Linked DNA regions of Homo sapiens: regions 1 and 2 are each linked to region 3. Evidence: fine-mapped QTL for protein levels in blood plasma. Region 3 holds a variant in brackets. A gene starts in each other region. All regions are shown on their forward strands.

Region 1 (4,292 bases), not on the chromosome of region 3:
CATCTCCTCACCTAGACAAATGACACACCATCGACTTCCCGGACGAATGCTGAGAACTTGCCACGCTCTCTCCCCAGGGCCCCATCCCTATCCCTGCCGCCATCCCATGTGTCAGTTCATCTTGCGAGGCCTCCCCCTGTGATCTCTCGGTCCTCTCCGCATTCCTGGGTTGCCTCACACCTGGGTTATTGCAAGTGTCTTCTAGCCTCTCTCCTGCTCCCATCCGTCCTACACACTTTTTAAATCTTCATTCAGGCTTTAACTTGCACGCACAAGTGTGTGAACCTTCCTCTCCATCTCCAGGGCCTGGCTCCAAACAGCATTTCCATGGTCATGGAAATGATCTGAAGACTTCCACAGATGCCTCACTACTTTTTTTTTTTTTTTTTTGAAACAGGGTCTCACTCTGTCACCCAGGGTGAAGTGCAGTGGCACAATCATAGCTCACTGCAACCTTCACCACCAGGACGGAATGTAGTGGTGTGGTCAGGGCTCACTACAACCTCCACCTCCTGGGCCCAAGCCGTCCTCCCGAGCTCAGTCTCCCGAATAGCTGGGATGACAAGCACGCCCCACCATGCCCCGCTAATCTTTGTATTTTTTGTAGAGACAGGGTTTTGCTGTGTTGCCCAGGCTGGTCTCGAACTCCTGGACTCAAGCAATCCACACACCTCGGCCTCCTGAAGTGCTGGAATTACAGGCATGAACCACAGCACCCATCTGAGATGCCTCACCTCACTTCTAATCACAGTCTGGGCACAGAATGTGCCCTAGGAGAACAGCTTCTGAATAAACGAATGAATGAATTCCTCCACCTGGAACCATATTCAACACTCTTCCTCCATCCTCTCCCCCACTCCCTCTAATTCTCCCATTCACATTTCTTAGTGTTTCTCAACATGGTTTTTCCACTCCCGAACCAAGGTGTCTGGCTTCCTGCCACCCTGCCCATCAACACAAAATCCCATCTCTCCATTCCTCTCCTCTTCCTCACATCAGTATCCAACTCTGCTTCCCTCCTTTATAGCTACCCTGACAGGCAGTGACTTCAGATGTCAGCTCCACATCCACTTTTCTATGAGGCTTTCCCTCCGCCATCCCATCTGACACATCTCTTGTTCCTTAATTCCTTCAGCAAATAGTTAAGGGGCACAGTTAATGTGACAGGTCCCGTATGGGTGCTAGGGATGCTGAGGTGGATAATACACAGCTCGTGCTCTCAAGAGCTCTCACTTGAGTCAAAGACAGTCAGTTGTAGGCACTGAGATCTATACAGGGAGTGCTGCAGTTGCACAGTGAAGGACACTGAAGCAGCGTGGGGAAGCTCCTGAATTTTCTGGAGCTGAGCGCAGGAGCTGAGACCTGCTAAGCAAGGAAAGGCAGTGGACTAAGGCTCACCTCCTTCCCCAGTTCCTCCTCCTCCCAACTGGTGCTCCAGGACACCACATCACAATGCATTTGTGGATATTTTCCTCGGGATTGCTCTGAAATCATTTTTCACTGTAAGCCATCTTGGTTACTAGGCTGTAAGCTCTTTGAGAGCAGCAAAATCCTGTTTGCTTTGCCACAGTCTCTCCTGTATCATTCTTCCCTACTCCCCTACCCCACTTCTCTCTCTCTCTCTCTCTCTCTCTCACACACACACACACACACACACACACACACACACTGTGAGCTCTGCATTGCCCACTGAATGGTGAGAAATTCAGAAGGATGTTGCATTCCCTTTGTTTTCCCTTTCCTCCAGCTCCAGGCCAGGCTTCTGTCCCTTAGGAGACATAATCCCACCTGGGCTGAAGCACCCCAGGACGCAGGCACTTCCCTTTACCTGTTCAGGCTACCTTTACCCTCTGTTTTCCCAACACAGGTAGCCACCCAGTAATTACTACTAGTCACAGCAATATAAAAACTTTATTGAGTGCTTTCTATTTGCTACAACCTATTCCCCTGATGGACTGTCAAAGCTGTGGGCAGGGATTTTGTTCTCTGCTGTAATCCCAGCACCTATCACAGTGTCTAGCCCAGAGCGCACACTTAATAAATCAAATGAACACTTAACATGTATCAGTCTATTCAATCTTCAAAACAACAGTATGAGGTCAAGACTGTGACACCCATTTTGGAGATAAAGAAACGAAGGCATGGAAGGTTAGGTTATATAAGCTGCTCTTGTTCATGCAGGAGGTATGTGAGGGAGCCAGGGGCCGCCCCCAAACAGAAAACAGAAGCAGGATGTCAGGGCAGCTGGCTGGTGGGGAGACCGTGGGGGAAGGACAGTGGGAAGAAGGGAAGAGCGGGTGGGACTAAGGAGGCAGGAGGAGGCAGAAGAAGAAGAGTGAGACCCTGACCAGAGACGTGCTGCCTGGGGACCTGGGGCCGGGACCAGAGCGGAGCAGAGAGGAGGGGAAGGAGGATTAGCGAGAAAAGATTTCAAAAAAAGAGGCTCTGAGAAGTCTGAGGAGAGTCTGGGGAGATTGCTGGAAGAAAGGAATGGTAGGAGAGGAAGAGTATAAGGCACTAAAGAGAGGGGAGGTAGGCGCAGCCTTCAGAGGCCGGGCAGGGCAGGGAAAATCTGCCTGACTAGATGGGCCCAGGACATCTGAACAGGATGATTCCCGGACCAAGACGTGGAGGACGATCAAGGATACATTGAAACAAGGCTGAGGCCAGAGAAAGGGACATTTTCCAGTGACGAAAACAACTTTCTACCAACTTCCCCAAACTGAACTGTAGAATAAGAAACCAAGGGATTGTTGTTTAGGTCTGTGAGAAGCAGCGGGGAGGGGAAGCTGGAGGACAGGCCCAGGGACACTGACCAGGTGGGGGTAGGACTAGCTCCCTGGGAAGGCTCAGTCCCACAGCGGCTACCTGCCTAGCAGCAGGCAAAAGGGTAAAGAATGTCCCCAGGTGAGAGGCCGGGGCTTGGCCAGGGCACTGGGGACACTGTCCACTGGGTTGCCCTGCCCCATCCAGTGTCCCAGCCCATTCTCAAATACCTCCCACCATGAGCATCCCAAACCCACCACACCAGCCCATCCCCACTCCTCAACTCACTCCCCCACTTCACCAGCCGCCAAAATCCTGCCCTACAGGGTGTGCTCCACCAAGTTCCACAGGCAGCCTCGCCTCCCCACGGCCCAACACCCTCCAGGCCAGCCAGCTGACCGGAGGGACAGAATTCAGAACCGTCTGGACTCCCCGAGCACTAATCTTCCTACTCCCACTCCCTTCTTTTCCCCGCCAAATCTGCCCCACCCTGGGCCTATCTCCTGCCCACATTCCCTTGGCCGCCCACAAACTTCCACCGCTGTCAGGGGCCAGGGCTTCCTTTTACTCTCTCCCTTTCAAACTTCTCCCATTCCCCTGCCTCAGCGCAGCCCCTACTCCAAAAGGCGGATGAATGGGGAACCCCACACTGGCAGTGGCTGAGGTTAGGACCTGCAGGCCTGAGGCTGGCGCCAGGACCAGGCCCGGGCAGGAGAGGCTCGGCCCCCTCCCGGAGAGGGCCCACGCCAGCCGGAAGGTGCCTCGCCCACCAGCCCACTCTTCCCTTTGTCCCTGGTCTCACCAGTGGCAGCAGCAGGTCAGGCACGGTGGAGAGGCCCATGCCAGACAGCTATGGCCTCTCACTCCCCCATTTGGGCTCAGGGCAGTGTGGCAGCGGCAGTGCTGGGGCTTCCCGGGACTCGGTCTGTCCAGGACGTCCCAAGTGCCTTGGGGTGACAGTTGAGGGTTGAGACTCGGGCATAGAGATCACGGCCTGGTCCCAGTGATCTTGAACCCCAAAGGCCAGAACTGGAGCCTCAGTCCAGAGAATTCTGAGAAAATTAAAGCAGAGAGGAGGGGAGAGAAGGTGGGAGGGGAAGAGTGAGGCAGTGTTGCAACAGCGGGACAGGAAGAGCTGGAGGAGGAGGCCACAGGAGGCGGGAGGAGGAGGCCCAACGTTCTTTAACTCTTTGTAGTCCAGTCACAAGCACAGGAGTCCCAGATCTGGCTGCCTTGTGCCCCCAACCCACCAATCCGACCACTCCCAACCAAACACCAAGGGGCAATAAGCCCCTTGCCCACATCACTAGCCTTTCCCAGATGGATCACAGCAGTGAAAAGATCCAGAGTCTGGGAGTCAAATTCTCTGGGTTCCAATTCAGAATGCTTAGCTTTTTAGCTAAGAATGTGTCTTGGACACATAAATGAACTTCTCAGACACATAACTGAAACTGTCTGGATCTGTTTTCCAATTTGCAGAGTGGAGATAACCTGTCTCCTGGGGTTCCTGTAAGGATTTGTTCAGA
Region 2 (4,000 bases), not on the chromosome of region 3:
GTGAGCCTGAAGGATATTATGTTAAATGAAATGAGGTAGGCACAGGATGACAAGTACTGCATTATCTCACTCATGTGGAATCTGAAAACGTTGATCTCATAGAAGGACGGTGCAGAATCATGGTTACAAGAAGCTTGGGTAATAGTGGGGAAGGAGGAATGAGGGAAATGTTGCTCAAGGGATATATAATTACAGTTAGATATGGGGTGTGTGTCCAGAATAGACAAATATAGAGAGACAGAAAGTAGATAATGATTGCATGTGGCCAGAAAATAGAGGGGTGAGGATAGGTGAGGCGTTGGAAAAAAAATTGGGGATGCCTGCTAGTGGGTATGGCGTTCTTTCTTGGGTGATGAAAACATTCTGAAATTGATTGTGGTGATAGTTGCACCACTCAGTGATTGTCATAAAAAACCATTGGATTGCATAACTTAAATGGTGAATTGTATTATATGTGAATAATATTTCAATAAAGCTGTTTTTAATAAAAGATACTGTAGCATGTTTGTATACTTATGGGAATAATTTAGAATGAAGAAACATATTGATGATGGAGCAAACTTTTTGAGAAAGTAAGAGGGTCATGGGCCTAATGCACAAGTGGAGAGTCTTGTCATCAACAAGATGAGGGGCAATATATTCGTGGTAGGGGAAGAGAAGGCAGTGTATGTGAATGCAGAGGTGAGTAGGTCAACAGCAACAGAAAGATGAGAGAGTTTTCTTCTGACTGCTTTTATTTTCTCAATGAAATATGAAGCAAGATTACACAATGAGAGTGAACAGAGAAGTATGAGGTGACAGGATAAGGTATGCAATAGTGATAATGGAGCAACATGGACTGTGAACATGTAGGATAATTGCCTGGCATTGCTGTTGGCTACCTGAGATTTGGGGGTCCTACACTTAAAAGGGGATAAGTCATCAGGGTTGTGCATTTAAAAAAAAATCCCATTCAGCTGTTTATGTCCAGGAGTGAAGCATGCAGAAGGGCGTGTAAACCAGGAGAGTGCTATGGGGGAAGAGAGATGAAGGTGTGCTCGAGGGAGTGTTGTGGTGGTGAGCTGCAGAATCTGAGCTGAGCACCATGAGAAGTGAGCACATGAAGTGTAGTTACTGATAATGGAAAAGTAGCCCTGGGGTAATTGAAGTCATGTTGGAAATAGAGTGCAGGAGAAAGTGAGCTAGAAACACAACTTAGTGGGGGTGGGGGATGTATGCTGAAAACAAAGGAGTGATGATAAGTTCTAAGGTTTGACTGTGGGAATGGGGAGTCAGAGAGGGATAAAAGGAAATAACGTTGGTAGTAAGAAGGGCAAGGAATTCAGAGGCCTATTTATTATACAGATTTTTCTTTTGGCAGCTGTTGAAAACACTGAGAACAAAGACAATTATTGATGGAAAGGAAGACAGACAGTGAACACTTCCTATGAGATAAAAACTGAAATGATAGTTTTCTTGAAAACTCTGGCTTTTTGAAATATCTACAACTTTTTGCCTGACTCTGAGCCCTCCGTGGAAGTGGAGATCTGAGCACCCCTGAGCATTACCTGACAGAACCTTAGTCCTAAGAAGTCCTTACAGCCCTTCAGGAAGCAGAGCCCAAGCATGATTGCATCCCATGCCCTGCTCTGAGTTGCCCAACTCACCACAGATCAACAGCAACAGCCTCGGCAGCATGAGGACCAGGTCAGGGATGGTACCTAGAGATGCCTCTCATCAAAAAAAGAATGCACCTCAGAGTCGAGCAGCAGCAGCTCATCAGAGGTTTGAGGAAGTTGATATCGGAAGTTACCCTTCAGCAGAAGTAGAAGGAAGAAGAACCCTCTAGTGACCAGTCTCCATTTCCTTTTCTATGAAGTCTGAGAAAATTAAAGATGCTCCTTTTTAAATATAGTTTGATTCAGTTCCACAAGCTGCAGATAGTACACATCAATATTTGAGGGACTTTTTCAAGAATTCAGGTATTTCAAAGGAAGTTTTCTAAAGGCAGTTTCCTACTTTGATGAGTCTCATCAGGTTATGGTCCTGCTGAAATTCATCTTTGATACATCTACAATACTTTTCACCTTTGATAGGGATGTCTCCTGGATTGTTTCTAATTGGCACATTCTTCTTGCTCAGCAATATAGTCCCACTATGCAAACTTTCTCTAGTATAGTCATATTATGCAAACATGTCATTAAATCAGGGACTGATGGGGCTGTCACCCCGGTTATGTGTAGTGTCTGACCCTTGCTGCATATGATGACTTATGTACAGGGTCAACCTATTCATACAGATATACGCTTTGATATTCAAACTTTCAGTGTACCAGTAAATGAGCATGAAATCACTGAAAAATAAAATCACGGCAAATTACAATCTGGGGGATATTTGAAAATGAAATACAGAAAAGAAGTATATGCAAATTAGCTTCAGGGCACTTGAGAAGGGTTCACCATTAGTACTAACTCTGGCATTTGTAAAATTGCCCCTCTTTTCCCTCAAAATCAGGGCACCTATAATCTCTCCCATTGCTACCTTTAGCACATTAGGGATACCAGTTCTAGGCAAGTGAAGCCTAGATTAGGGATTGGAGGAGAATAAGCTATCTTAATTTTCAACATTTCTTAAATCCGTGAGTGTCTAGGATTAAGAATAACTAGAATGTGTGGAAAGTAACCTATTAGGGGAAAGATGCTGTCAGGCAATGATGTCTAAGTCCAGGTATCCAGCTCAATGAGTATGACTGAGAAAAGAAACTATTCAGTGATACGCAAAACCAGAGGGAAAAGGGAGCAATGTTGGTAACCAGGCTAACAGCGAAAGTGCTGAAAACGAATAGGTATTCCATAGCTTTATTTATTGGCTTAGGAAAGCCTGTGTGGGGATAAGCTTGTTTAGTGTAAAGTTTCAGGACCAATGCAAAAAAATCTCCTGAATGAGAATGTAGAGCCCTTTAAATCCAGGGTGTAAAGCTGTTTTTGCATACACTCTGCTGTTTCATCTCTCTCTTTTTCTTTTAATCTGTTGGTTTTTTTAATGTTTTAATTGACACATTGTAATTGTACATATTTATGGGGCACAGTTTGACATTGCAATATAATACATATATATGTTGTACAGTGATGATCAAATCAGGGTGGTTGGCATATCCATTGTCTCGTGCAGTTTTCATTTCTATGTGGTGAGAACATTCAAAAGCCTCTTTCCTAGCTATTTTGTAATATATAATACCTTACTAGTAACCATAGTTACCCTACTGTGCAATAAAACACCAAACCTTATTCCTCCTATCGAATTGGCACCTTGTACCTGTTGACCAATCTTTCCCTCTCTTCCCTCCTCATTCCCTCCTCAGTCTCTGATAGATGCTATTCTATGCTATACTTCCATAATATCAACTTCTTATTTTTTTCAGATTCCACATATAAGTAAGTTCATGTGGTATTTGTCTTTCTGTGTCTGGCTTGGTTCACTTAACATGATGTCCTCCAGCTTCATCATGTTGTCACAAATGACAGGATTTCATTTTGTATGGCTGAATGGTATTCCGTTGTATATATACACCACATTTTCTTTATGGATTCATCTGTTGTTGGGGTCTTAGGTTGATTCTCATCACATCTCTTCCTGTGTGTCCTGCTCCAGTGCCTTCACAAGATGTTCAGATTAAAATGTGTTTCCTCCTCCACAGATATAAAGGCTATAACATTTTATTTGTTAAGCTCTCTCACACTTTTATTTTTATAATGTGATAGTTCATGCATGCATACAAAAAAGTAACATGAATATAAATTATGAAATACTACGATGAAATGAAAAGCCATGAGCCTATCCCCAGACTGTTTTAAGAACTTGAACATAAGGCGGGCGGATCACGAGGTCAGGAGATCGAGACCATCCTGGCTAACACAGTGAAACCCCGTCTCTACTAAAAAACACAAAAAATTAGCCGGGCGTGGTGGCGGGCGCCTGTAGTCCCAGCTGCGCGGGAGGCTGAGGCAGGAGAATGGCGTGA
Region 3 (4,352 bases):
GAGCCCCAGCTCCCTCACCCCCCGCCACCAGTGCCTTGGTCAGTGCAGTCCCTGAGGCCACGTCAGGGAGTGTTTCCAGACCGTGTCCAGAGATGCCCCAGTAGAGGTGACAGGTGACTTCACTCTTGGTTCTGGGACCTTCTGTGTCTGGAAGCGACTAACAGCTTGGGACCCAGAATTGCCTTCCCCACCCCCAGCCACGCAATTGTGGGCAAGGGGCTTGCTCTCCCAGCCCCAGACTCCACACTTAGGAAAATTTTAAATGGGAGTGAGATGAGCCTGTTGCCCAGGTGAGGCTAAAATAAGGGAGCAAGTAAGCACACCCTCCGCCAGAGCTGGACGCAGGCAATAACTGTCCTTAGGACCCTGATAACTGTGATACTTGGGGAGCTCAGGGAGGCCCCATGGGTCTGATTGGCTGCTGTGGTCACTTCTCCCCAAACCAGGCCAGCCTCGATGGTCAAATGTGTCTTACCCAAACAAGACCAAGACAAGCATTATTAGGAAAAGGATCATAGGTCGAAGTGCGTGGCATTTTGGTTTTCCTGGAAAACAGGAGTAGAAAAATCACATCACTCACCCTCCTTCTCTCACCTGCCCCACTTTACCTGTCCCGCCTTGTAATTCAGGCATCACACCCTGCGACGGGCCTTCATCTGCCAAGATGGTCCCTCTGCCCCACAGGTGATGCTCTGAGCCCCACCTGAGCATCTCCAAACCCAGTCCAGATCTGGCCCTCCTCCCACTCAGAGAAGAGGGAGGCGGTCTGCTCCTCCCAGCTCATCAGCCCGACTGCTCCTGCAGACTCTGAGAGCCACCCCGGCTTCCCATTGACCTCCTTCCACTCAGCACCCCCTTCCCCTGGGAGACCGGAATGAACCACACTGAAATGAGCACGTCGAGGTCACTGTCGAACCCACCGAGGGAGGCCAGGACAGCCTCATGGCCAGGCTGAGCCAGGAGCCCAGACCAGTTCCTGCCAGGGAGAGGAGCCACCAACTTCCCCTAGTATCTCCCTGCTGTCTCAGAGGCTCATGTTCTGGAAACAATCATTGTCTTTAAGGTGATTTTATGTATATTAAAGTCACGTACAGTAGTTCCCTTATCCACACCTTCGCTTGCTGGAGTTTCAGTTACCCATGGTCAACCAAAGGCCAATAATAGGTGAGTACAGTACAGTAAAATATTTTGAGGACAGGCATCGTGGCTCGTGCCTATAATCCCAGGACTTTGGGAGGCTGAGCCAGCAGAATTGCTGGAAGCCAGGAGTTCTAGACCAGCCTGGGCAACATAGTGAGAACTCATTTCTATCAAGAAAAAAAAAAAAAAAACAATTAGCTGGGCATAGTGGTGCATGCCTCTGGTCCCAGGAGGCTGAGGTGGAAGGATCACTTGAGCCTAGGAGGTGAAGGCTGCAGTAAGCCATGATCACACCACTGCACTCCAGCCTGGGTAACAGAGCAAGACCCTGTCTCTTAATAATAAACAAAACTACAACAACAAAAAACCCACAAACTAAGATATATACACATTTTTTTTTAGAGAGACCACATTCACGTAACCTTTATTACAGTATATTGTTTTTGTTGTTGTTGTTGTTTTGTTGTTGTTTTTGAGATGGAGTTTTGCTCGTTGCCCAGGCTGGAGTGCAAAGGGGCACCTTCGGCTCACTACAGCCTCCGCCTCCCGGGTTCAAGCAATTCTCCTGCCTCAGCCTCCCGAGTAGCTGGGTTTACAG[GCGCCCACCACTA/G]CGCCTGGCTAATTTTTTGTATTTTTAGTAGAGACAGGTTTCACCATGTTGGCCAGGCTGGTCTCGATCTCCTGACTTCAAGTGATCCACCCGCCTCGGACAGTATATTGTTATAATTGTTCTATTTTACTATTAATTATGGTTGTTAATCCCACCCGGTGCCTAATTTATAAATTAAACCCTATCATAGGTATGTGTGTACAGGAGAAAACATACTCTCTGTAGGGTTTGGTACTATCTGTGGTTTCAGACATCCACTGGGGATCTCGGAACCTATCCCCCGCAGGTAAGAGGGGACTATCGTTTTCACAAGGGCAAGCCTGAAAGGCGTCTATCTCCTGGCCCAGTTCCTATTCCTTCCCCCGAAATCAGTCCCTTTCAACTAATTCATCTGTTACTTCTTATCTTATAATGCTTGTGTGTGTTTACCTCCACCTTTCTAAGTCCTGTGACCACGGAGCGATTTATCTCGAATAGCTTCTTGAAACAGAAACGTGGGAGGCAAAACATTTGAACTTTACATGTCCTAAATTATTTTTTCCATTTTTGTAGTTGGTAGATCGTTTGGCTGTAGGGAAATCTTGGTGGAAATAATTTTCCTTCAATGTGGCAAAAATGGTTCCATTTTTTAAAACTTTGAAAATTAATTTAATTTGAGGGATAACTTACATCCAATAAAATGTGCCCACTTTAGGTATACGGTTTTGATGAGTTTCACACAATGTATGTACACATGTAATCACCCCAGTAAGGTCCCTCCTGACCCTGACAACCATGGATCTGATTCCCTGGCGTTTCCCATACACGGAATCCTCTGATACATGCTCTTTTATGTCTGGCCGCATCACACCGCATGCTGTTTTGAAGATTCACCTATATTGTCACGTGTATCAATCGTTCGTTCTTTTTCATTTCTGAGAAGCACGCCATTGTTAATCCGCCACAATTCATTTATTCTGTCTCCTATTGACAGACACTGTGGTTTTTTCACTGTTCGGGGCCACTAGCAACAAAGCTTCTGTAAACACTCATGTGCAGGTATTTGTGGACCTGTGTTTTCATTTCCCTTGAGTAAATACCAAGGAATGGAAAAGATGGGTCATATGGTAAGTGTATGTTTAACTTTGTAAGAAACTGTGTTCCAAAGTGGTGACTGAATTTTCCATTCCCGCCAGGAATGTACGAGAACCACAGTCCTTGCCAACACTTGATGGTCACTCTTTTATCCTTTAGCCATGCTAGTGGATGAGGAGTGGTATCTAAGTGTGTCCAATGACTAAGGAGGTAAATCATCTTTTCATGTATTTATTGGCCATTTGCTTGCTTCTTATGAAGCCTGTCCAGATCTTTAGCTCATTTTATTATTTATTTATTTATTTATTTACTTATATATATTTTTGGGGGGCACAGTCCCACTCCAGTTGCCCAGGCTGGAGTGTGGTGGCATGATCATGGCTCACTACAGCCTCGACTTCCTGGGCTCAGGTGATCCTCCCACCTCAGCCTTTTGAGTAGCTGAGACTATAGGCATGCACCACATCTAGCTGATTTTTTGTGGTTTTGGTAGAGATGGGGTTTCACCATGTTGCCCAGGCTGGTCTTGAACTCCTGGGCTTAAGCAATCCACCTGCCTCAGCCTCCCAATGTGCTGGGATTACAGGCATAAGCCACCTCACCTGGCCCTCTATTTTTATTTTTTTTAGACAGGATCTTACTCTGTCACCCAGGCTGGAGTGCAGTGGCACGATCACAGCTCGCTGCAACCTCGAACTCCTGAGCTTAAGTGATCTTTCCCCCTCAGCCTCCTGATTAGGTGGGACTACAGACATGCACCAACATGCCCGGCTAATTATTCTACTTTTTGTAGACACTGGGTCTCATTAAGTTGTTTCTCTTTTTATTATTGAGCAGAATTTATTTCTATATTTTGGATACAAGTCCTTTGCCAAATACAAATATTACAAATATTTTCTCGCCAGGCACAGAGAGACAGACACTGCATGTTCTCACTTATCTGTAGTATCAAAACATCGAAACAATTAAACTCATGGAGATAGAGAATAGAAGGATGGTTCGCAGAGACTTGGAAGGGTAGTGGCAGGGGTGAGAGGGTATGTAGGGATGGTTAATGTGTACAAATAAATAGAAAGAATGAATAAGACCCAGTATTTGATAGCATAACAGGGAGACTATAGTCAATAATAATTTAATTGCACATTTAAAAATAACTAAAAGAGAGGTCGGGCACAGTGGCTCATGCCTGTAATCTCAGCACTTTGGGAGGCCGAGGCAGGTGGATCACCTGAGATCAGGAGTTCAAGACCAGCCTGGCCAACATGGTGAAACCTCATCTCTACTAAAAATACAAAAACTAAGGCCAGGCGTGGTGGCTCACGCCCGTAACCCCAGCACTTTGGGAGGCCGAGGTGGGTGGATCACGAGGTCAGGCATTCGAGTCTAGCCTGACCAACACGGTGAAATCCTGCCTCTACTAAAAATACAAAAAATTAGCTGGGTGTGGTGGCGCATGCCTGTAATCCCAGCTACTTGGGAGGCTGAGGCAGGAGAATCTCCTGAACCTGGGAGACGGAGGTTGCAGTGA

Alleles and levels. Positions count from the first base shown, and alleles are read on the strand shown. Strength reflects both the effect of a copy and how common the allele is.
For the plasma level of the protein whose gene starts at base 3,869 in region 1, allele GCGCCCACCACTA in region 3 goes with a higher level than allele G (strong association).
With allele GCGCCCACCACTA in place of G in region 3, the plasma level of the protein whose gene starts at base 1,760 in region 2 is lower (strong association).

What was found. PIP is the posterior inclusion probability: the model's chance that the variant is causal. Protein levels are from antibody-based Olink assays in UK Biobank. Linkage for the fine-mapping came from a reference panel and not from the study's own genotypes, which makes the PIPs less certain.
Region 1: it holds the start of TNFRSF1A, and the variant in region 3 is fine-mapped to the plasma level of the TNFRSF1A protein (UK Biobank, PIP above 0.99).
Region 2: it holds the start of FCRL1, and the variant in region 3 is fine-mapped to the plasma level of the FCRL1 protein (UK Biobank, PIP above 0.99).

Annotation. Positions count from the first base shown.
Region 1 is chr12:6,338,208-6,342,499 of GRCh38, forward strand. It overlaps TNFRSF1A (TNF receptor superfamily member 1A), which reads right to left and starts at 3,869. Exons shown (of 10, transcript NM_001065.4): 1 at 3,569-3,869. The coding sequence starts at 3,607. RefSeq lists an enhancer at 3,672-3,771.
Region 2 is chr1:157,818,361-157,822,360 of GRCh38, forward strand. FCRL1 (Fc receptor like 1) reads right to left here and starts at 1,760. Exons shown (of 11, transcript NM_052938.5): 1 at 1,647-1,760. The coding sequence starts at 1,677.
Region 3 is chr9:133,261,624-133,265,975 of GRCh38, forward strand. It overlaps the pseudogene ABO. Among named protein-coding and RNA genes, the nearest start is that of OBP2B, 55 kb to the left of the region's middle. The variant GCGCCCACCACTA/G (reference allele first, on the strand shown) is at 1,739.